2 linked regions of the Homo sapiens genome follow. The protein of the gene in region 2 interacts with the protein of the main gene of each other region in a biochemical or structural test. Each region holds a gene or a part of one and is shown on either strand. Other genes may lie near its edges.

Region 1 (3,821 bases), on a different chromosome or scaffold from region 2:
GACCTTGTGATCCGCCTGCCTCAGCCTCCCAAAGTGCTGGGATTACAGGCATAAGCCACCGCGCCCGGCCTACGCCCAATTTTTATACTTTTAGTAGAGACAGGGTTTCACCATGTTGGCCAGGGTGATCTTGAACTCCTGACCTCATGATTCATCCGCCTTGGCCTCCCAAAGTTCTGGGATTATAGGCATGAGCCACTGCACCCAACCTCATGCCCGGCTAATTTTCTATTTTTAGTAGAGACAGGGTTTCTTCATGTTGGTCAGGCTGGTCTCGAACTCCCGACCTCAGTTGATCTGCCCACCTCGGCCTCCCAAAGTGTTGGGATTACATGCGTGCGCCACCGCGCCCGGCGACTTGGATTTCCAAAGCTGCTATTCCTTAAGGCCTCACATTATCCCAGGTTCAAAGCTGCCTGCTCTAGACATCATTCCTGCCTCTGCCACAAACACTACCCAGACACCCCCAACCCCTCAGCAGCCTGGGGGCTGAGGGCATATATTTCTCAGGTCCTTGAGCCTAGTAATCTTGGGCTCATGGTGTCAGGAGGATGCCAGGTCCCCTCACTGATCTTGCCTTCCTTGCTCTCCACCCCTGACCCCTAGTAAACTGCATGGTTGGTTCAGGAAGGGGAAGCCATGTCATGATCACAGCCTGCTCCATCTCCCCCACCCCAGGGCTTCTTTCGCCGCACAATCCAGAAGAACCTCCATCCCACCTATTCCTGCAAATATGACAGCTGCTGTGTCATTGACAAGATCACCCGCAATCAGTGCCAGCTGTGCCGCTTCAAGAAGTGCATCGCCGTGGGCATGGCCATGGACTGTAAGGGGCCCAGGTGGAGGGAATAGAGCCAGGTGGCCTGGGGTGGGGATGAGTTCTGGGAGGGCAGCTTCCTTCCAGGGTACCCTCAGAGCCCACAGGGCAGAGTGGCAATCCAGTCTAGGTCAGAATGTTCAGTGTCTTGGTCCTTGCTGTCCTCCTTCCTGCGCAAAAGGAAACAGGATCCCTGTGTGGGCCCCAATGCCTACCTGCCTTACAACACTCGAGGGCCTTAGAGAGGGAGTCGTTTGGTAGAAAGAGCTCCTGGGCACCCACTCTAGCACACTGTTCTTGACTCCCAGCGAAGGCACCCCACTTCTAGATGAGACAGGGCATCTTCCATTGGCTGGGGATTGGGTGGCAGGATATTCGAGTAACCACCGTCACCATAATCCGTTAGACCAGAACATGATATTCATCTGGATCAGCCCAAACTGTTGTTGACATGGTCCCGGGGATTAATCATGATCCGGGTTGTGCTGCCCAACTGCTAGGTGATTTGGGAAGTCATTTAGCCTCCATGGCCCTCGGTTTCTCCAACCTGTACTCTAGGAAGAGTAGTTTCCGGGAGCATTATGGAAAGGGGATGGAGGGTGCCATGCGTTAGACCTTGTGCCTCTCTGTTCACAGTGGTTCTAGATGACTCGAAGCGGGTGGCCAAGCGTAAGCTGATTGAGCAGAACCGGGAGCGGCGGCGGAAGGAGGAGATGATCCGATCACTGCAGCAGCGACCAGAGCCCACTCCTGAAGAGTGGGATCTGATCCACATTGCCACAGAGGCCCATCGCAGCACCAATGCCCAGGGCAGCCATTGGAAACAGAGGCGGAAATTCCTGGTAAGGAGAAAGGGGGCATGGGGAGAGCAGTAGCCAGGTGGCAGGGAGAAGAGAGTGAGCTCGGAGTCTTGCCTCCTCCAGGAAGTCTTCTTAGTGTAATCCAACCCAAAATACATACTCTTCACACTTTTGCTGTCCAGATTTTATACACTTGTGTTTGTGTCCTTGCTGTCTGGACTGTCTACTCCATCCAACTGGGAGCTCAATGAGGACAGGGCCTTGCCTTCCTCATCGAATTTCCAGGGAGCGGGAGCGACCTTTCTTCTTTTTCCTGCCCTTAGTGACTGGGAGGAGAGGGTAAGGATACAGTTATGTCACAGTATTTTTGAGCACCTGCTGGGTGCCAGGCATTATGTTAGGCCCTGGTCAAGCTAGTTGCTAAGTAAATGATGAGTTTGGGACCAGGTGCAGTGGCTCATGCCTGTAATCCCAGCAATTTGTGAGACCAAGGTGGGAGGATCGCTTGAGCCCAGGAGTTTGAGACCAGTCTGGGTAACATACAGAGATCCCACCTCTATGAATAATTTTTTTTTTTTTTGATACGGAGTCTCACTCTCACCCAGGCTAGAGTGCAGTGGCACGATCTCGGCTCACCGCAACCTCCGCCTCCTGGGTTCAAGCGATTCTCCCGCCTCCGTCTCCCGAGTAGTTGGGATTACAGGCACTGGCCACCATGCCTGGCTAATTTTTGTGTTTTTAGTAGAGACAGGGTTTCACCATGTTGACCAGGCTGGTCTCGAACTCCTGACCTCAAGTGATCCACCCGCCTCGGCCTCCCAAAGTGCTGTGATTACAAGATGTGAGCCACCATGCCCACCCTCTATGAATAATTTTTTTTTTTTTTTGAGTTGGAGTTTCGCTCTTGTTGTCCAGGCTGGAGTGCAGTGGCACAGTCTTGGCTCACCGCAACCTCTACCTCCCGGCTTCAAGCGATTCTCCTGCCTCAGCTTCCCAAATAGCTGGGATTACAGGCGTGCGCCACCACGCCCGGCTAATTTTGTATTTTTAGTAGAGACGGTGTTTCTCCATGTTGGTCAGGCTTGTCTGAACTCGCAACCTCAGGTGATCTGCCTGCCTTGGCCTCCCAAAGTGCTGGGATTACAGGTGTGAGCTACTGCTCCCGGCCTCTCTACGAATAATTTTAAAATTAGCTGGGCATGGGGGTGTGTGCCTGTGGTCCCAGCTACTCGGGAGGCTGAGGCAGGAGGATCCCCTAAGCCTGGGAGGTCGAGGCTGCAGTAAGCCATGATTACACCGCTGCACTCCAGCCCAGGCAACAGAGCAAGACCCTCTCTCAAAAAATATGATCAGTTTGGGAGGAGATGGACAGTTGGCTATACGTGGTGAAGGAAGGCAGAAAACCAGCACCTGGTTCATGGTGGAGCATGCCGGGGGGTGGCACAGTGCACACTGTTAAGGGCACGGGCTCTGATTCCAAGCAGATGTGTAACAGTCACGAGTCAGACTGCCCAAGTTCAAACCCTGGTCCTACCACTTGCTGGTCATATGACTTTAACCTTATTATTTAGCTGCCCCATGCCTCAGTTTCCACATCTGTGAAATGGTGATTATTATAATTATTCCTTTTAGGATTATGGTCAGGATGAAATAAGACATGTAAAACATGTAGCCTGATGCCTGATCATATATTAAGTATTCAGTCATTATAGCTGCTACTACTGTTACTACCGTTGTTATTATTAGCTGACTTGGAGCTCTGGTTCTGGTCTATTCTCTGCTCAAGATGAAGGAAAAGCTTTGGGCCTGGGACTCAGGCACGGGCGGCCCCTCTTCCCCAAGCTGCCTTGGAGCTCCCCCTGGTGGGCAGGGAGCCTCAGTGAGAGGCTGAAAGGGGTCTGCGGCCCCAGCTGACCCCCGTCTTTCTCTCTAGCCCGATGACATTGGCCAGTCACCCATTGTCTCCATGCCGGACGGAGACAAGGTGGACCTGGAAGCCTTCAGCGAGTTTACCAAGATCATCACCCCGGCCATCACCCGTGTGGTGGACTTTGCCAAAAAACTGCCCATGTTCTCCGAGGTGAGTGGCAGAAGTGGGGAGAGATGTGATGCTGTGCTGGAGGGAAACCTGCTCCCCCGGTCACCCAGTACAGGCTCATCTGAGGTTCTCTGGACAAGGAGCAATTCCTGTAGGTCAACATACA
Region 2 (3,821 bases):
GAGTAGCTGAGACTACAGGTACTCGCCACCACGCCCAGCTAATTTTTTTTGTATTTTTAGTAGAGACTGGGTTTCACCGTGTTAGCCAGGATGGTCTCAATCTCCTAAACTCGTAAGCCACCGTACCTGGCCTCCTTTTTTTTTTTTTTTTTTTTTTTTTTTTTTAAAGTCTCTCTCTGTCACTCAGGCTAGAGTACAGTGGCATGATCTCAGCTCACTGCAACCTCTGCCTTCCGGGTTCAAGCAATTTTCCTGCCTCAGCCTCCAGAGTAGCTGGGATTACAGGCGCCCACTACCATGCCTGGCTAATTTTTGTATTTTTAGTAGAGACAGGGTTTCACCATGTTGGCCAGGCTAGTCTCGAACTCCTGGCCTCAAGTGATATGCCCGCCTCAGCCTCCCAAAGTGCTGGGATTACAGGTGTGGGCCACCATACCCGGCTGTATTATTTATATACTTAGTGTCTTCAGGTAAAAATATTTTCTGTGTTTTACATTATCTTAAAGTTATCACAGTGTTTTTTCTTCTCAAAGCTCCTATGACAACAGCCTGTCTAGCTGATTGTAGACTGATTTTGGTTTCTCCAAGACCAAAATAAAGATGATGCAATTTTCATAATTCTATAACATCCATTTTAATAAAATCATTTTAATATTTTATTCTAAAAGTATGTACACTCTGTGTCTATACATATCTTCGTATAATCAATTTGCCTTTGCTATATCATCACCAAATTCTCTTAAACAATATTTTAATTATTTAAAATAAAATTCATACCTATTATTTCATCATTAGAAGGAAAGTAAAAAGGACCCAAGCTTCAGTTTGGCCTTAAATTCTACTTATTTTCCTAATAATTTTGTGGCACTTACGTAGTCTTTTCGCATCTCCCTTGCCTCAGCTATAAAATGCGTATCTTGCAGAGTTATGTTGAGAGTTTATTCTAATGTATATACAAGCACCTAGCACATGCTCAGTATTCAAATGTTTACCTCTTCCCTATTTATTGTATTTTAATGAGTAGATACTCTAAGCATGTTTTTTTAAAATGGTTGTTGACCAAAAATGTAAACATGAATGAATAAGTAAAGGAACAAGCCAGGAAAAAATCTACTGGGAAATTGCTTTTAAGTAGTAGATGAGTTTAACAAATTAGAGTATACTCATACAGTGGAATACTTTTCAGATATTAAGAAAATGCAGTAATCTAGATATGATTTTCTGAGTACGTGAGGAAAAGCATGTTATAGAATTTTTGTGAGGTGTTATCTCATTTGTATGTGTGTTTTCCTCCAGCCTCATCATGTACATAGAAAAAAACCTGAAACGATCCACCAACTGATTGTTCTTGGTAGAGGAGGAGGAAAGGGGGCATAGAGGTGGGGAATATGAGGGAGGAGTAGGTGGTAAAGAAGACATTCATGTCCAACTTCATATGTTTCTGTATGTAGTTTCTACAATGGAATATATAAATTAGGTTTTTCAAAATTGGAATGTTTCAGACATTTTATATAGTGCTGTTCATTTGTGAATGACCATGTTTGGAAAATACGGCATCTTGCAGTACACTTAGTTACTTTCCTTCTTCCAGCATGAAAATTTTCAAACATAATAAAAATTGAAAGAATTATATAGGGAACATTTTGTTCTACTTGCCTTATTACATGTTTATCTATTCCTTTGTCCATTCATCAAGTCATCCTTTTTTTTTTTTTTTTTGAGGCAGAATCTCTCTCTCTGTAGCCCAGGCTGGAGTGCACTGGTGCAATCTTGGCTCACTGCAACCTCTGCCTCCTGGGTTCCAGTGATTCTCCTGCCACAGCCTCCCAAGTAGCTGGGATTACAGGTGCCCACCACCACGCCCGGTTAATTTTTGTGTTTTAGTAGAGATGGAGTTTCACCATGTTGGCCAGGGTGGTCTTGAACTCTTGACCTCAAGTTATCCACCCACCTTGGGCTCCCAAAGTGCTGCGATTACAGGCATGAGCCACCATGCCCAGCCCATCATGTTTTTCAATAGGTTTTGAGTAAATTCCAGACAGCAGCATGCTTCACCTCTATATACTTCAGCATGCCTATCATCATCTTAATGTGTTTATCTCAGCAGGAATGATAGTACTTTCCTCAGATATTTATCGAGGCCTAATTATCTGTTCATATATGAGAAGAGGAATATAAAATCCTGAAAGTACCAGTCTGTAGCTTAGTATTTTCAAGTATTTCAGATAGGGATAGAAGAAATGTATGTTTTCAACCCTCCATCTTTACCTTGAAGTTGCTATGTATATATTTACATTTTTTTTCCAATATGTATAAACCTGCCAAGATTGGGTACTGTGATTTTCTGGTATATACTAACTGTTGTCTTCCAGTAAAAATCAGTGCTTTTTACTGTTTTGGTTTTTTTTTTTTTTTGACAAGATTAATGAAAATTATATATACTTGTGCAGTCTTTTGCTGTCCCATTCTCCTTCCATGTAAATTACAGTTGAACTCTTCTACTTCATTTTGTGTGAGTGATTACATAGATGTTGTATTTTATAAGCTTGTTGATAGCCTTTGTTCTTCTCTTCTTGTTACTGTAGTGGCAGATCAGCAGTGGACAGGGAACCCCATCAACTACCAACAGCACATCCTCTACTCCTTCCAGCCCCACGATTACTAGTGCAGCAGGATATGATGGAAAGGCTTTTGGTTCACCTATGATCGATTTGAGCTCACCAGTGGGAGGGTCTTATAATCTTCCCTCTCTTCCGGATGTAAGTAGACACAAAATTTATACTAGCCTCTGTTGAAAACTGTTGGCCGGGTGCAGTGGCTCACTCCTGTAATCCCAGCACTTTGGGAGGCTGAGGCAGACAGATTACTTGAGGTCAGGAGTTCGAGACTAGCCTGGCCAACATGGTGAAACCCCGTCTCTACCAAAAAATACAAAAATTAACCAGGCATGATAGCACACGCCTGTAATCCCAGCTACTTGGGAGGCGGAGGCTGTGGTGAGCTGAGATCATGCCACTGCACTCTAGCCTAACAGAGCGAGACCCTGTCTCAACAAAGAAAGAAAATTGTTAGTGAATTTGGATCTGGTAGAAGGCATGAATTTGTTGGATTATAGGTTGTTTGTTTTTACAAGTTAATTTTAATCCTTTAGAATATTACAACAGTAGTAAAAATAAAAAGATTATGAACATTGGACACATAATCTAATGTCTTTCAAGCCACCGGAGTTAAAGGTGTTTGTAAATGAGTGATTATGGTGATGGATCATGGAATCTAAGCTGGGAAAGGAGAAAAGTAAGGACATGGAAAGATATGCTGGGACGTTGAATGGCTGGACATCAGAAGAGATGAAGACAAGTTTAATAATAGAAATCCTGTTAGATCATACTGACAAGTGCAAAATTACCTCTGGTTTATACTACATGTAAATTAACTCACTCTCCAAACTCTTTGTCAGTATGACTTTTTGTTATTTATTATATTTTTAAATGATTTTTATTTTTAATAGAGATGGGGGAGACGCCCTATGTTACCCAGGCTGGTCTTGAACTCCTGGGCTGAAGGGATCCTCCTGCCTTGGCCTCCTAAAGTGCTGGGATTACAGGCATGAGCCACTACACCCAGCCAGTATGACTATTCCAAAGGCAGAAAGTCTGCATTCTGTAGACAGATCTCCATATATAAGTTGATTCTGTGTTTGATCCTTTTTTTAATCTAAAGTTAGATAACCTACTGTCGTGCACATATACATACGCACCTAATGTTAAGAAGCTTTTAGGAAATATCTTGTACTCTTTACTTGGATCAAATTACCTATAAGA

Evidence for each region.
Region 1: the proteins of TRIM24 (region 2) and THRA form a complex in vitro, tested with the Homo sapiens proteins (one study listed by BioGRID).

Annotation. Positions count from the first base shown.
Region 1 is NC_000017.11:40,083,157-40,086,977, forward strand, and holds part of THRA (thyroid hormone receptor alpha), read left to right. Parts: intron 1-678; coding exon 679-826; intron 827-1,453; coding exon 1,454-1,659; intron 1,660-3,550; coding exon 3,551-3,697; intron 3,698-3,821.
Region 2 is NC_000007.14:138,568,245-138,572,065, forward strand, and holds part of TRIM24 (transcription intermediary factor 1-alpha), read left to right. Parts: intron 1-2,585; coding exon 2,586-2,759; intron 2,760-3,821. UniProt on the Homo sapiens protein: Transcriptional coactivator that interacts with numerous nuclear receptors and coactivators and modulates the transcription of target genes.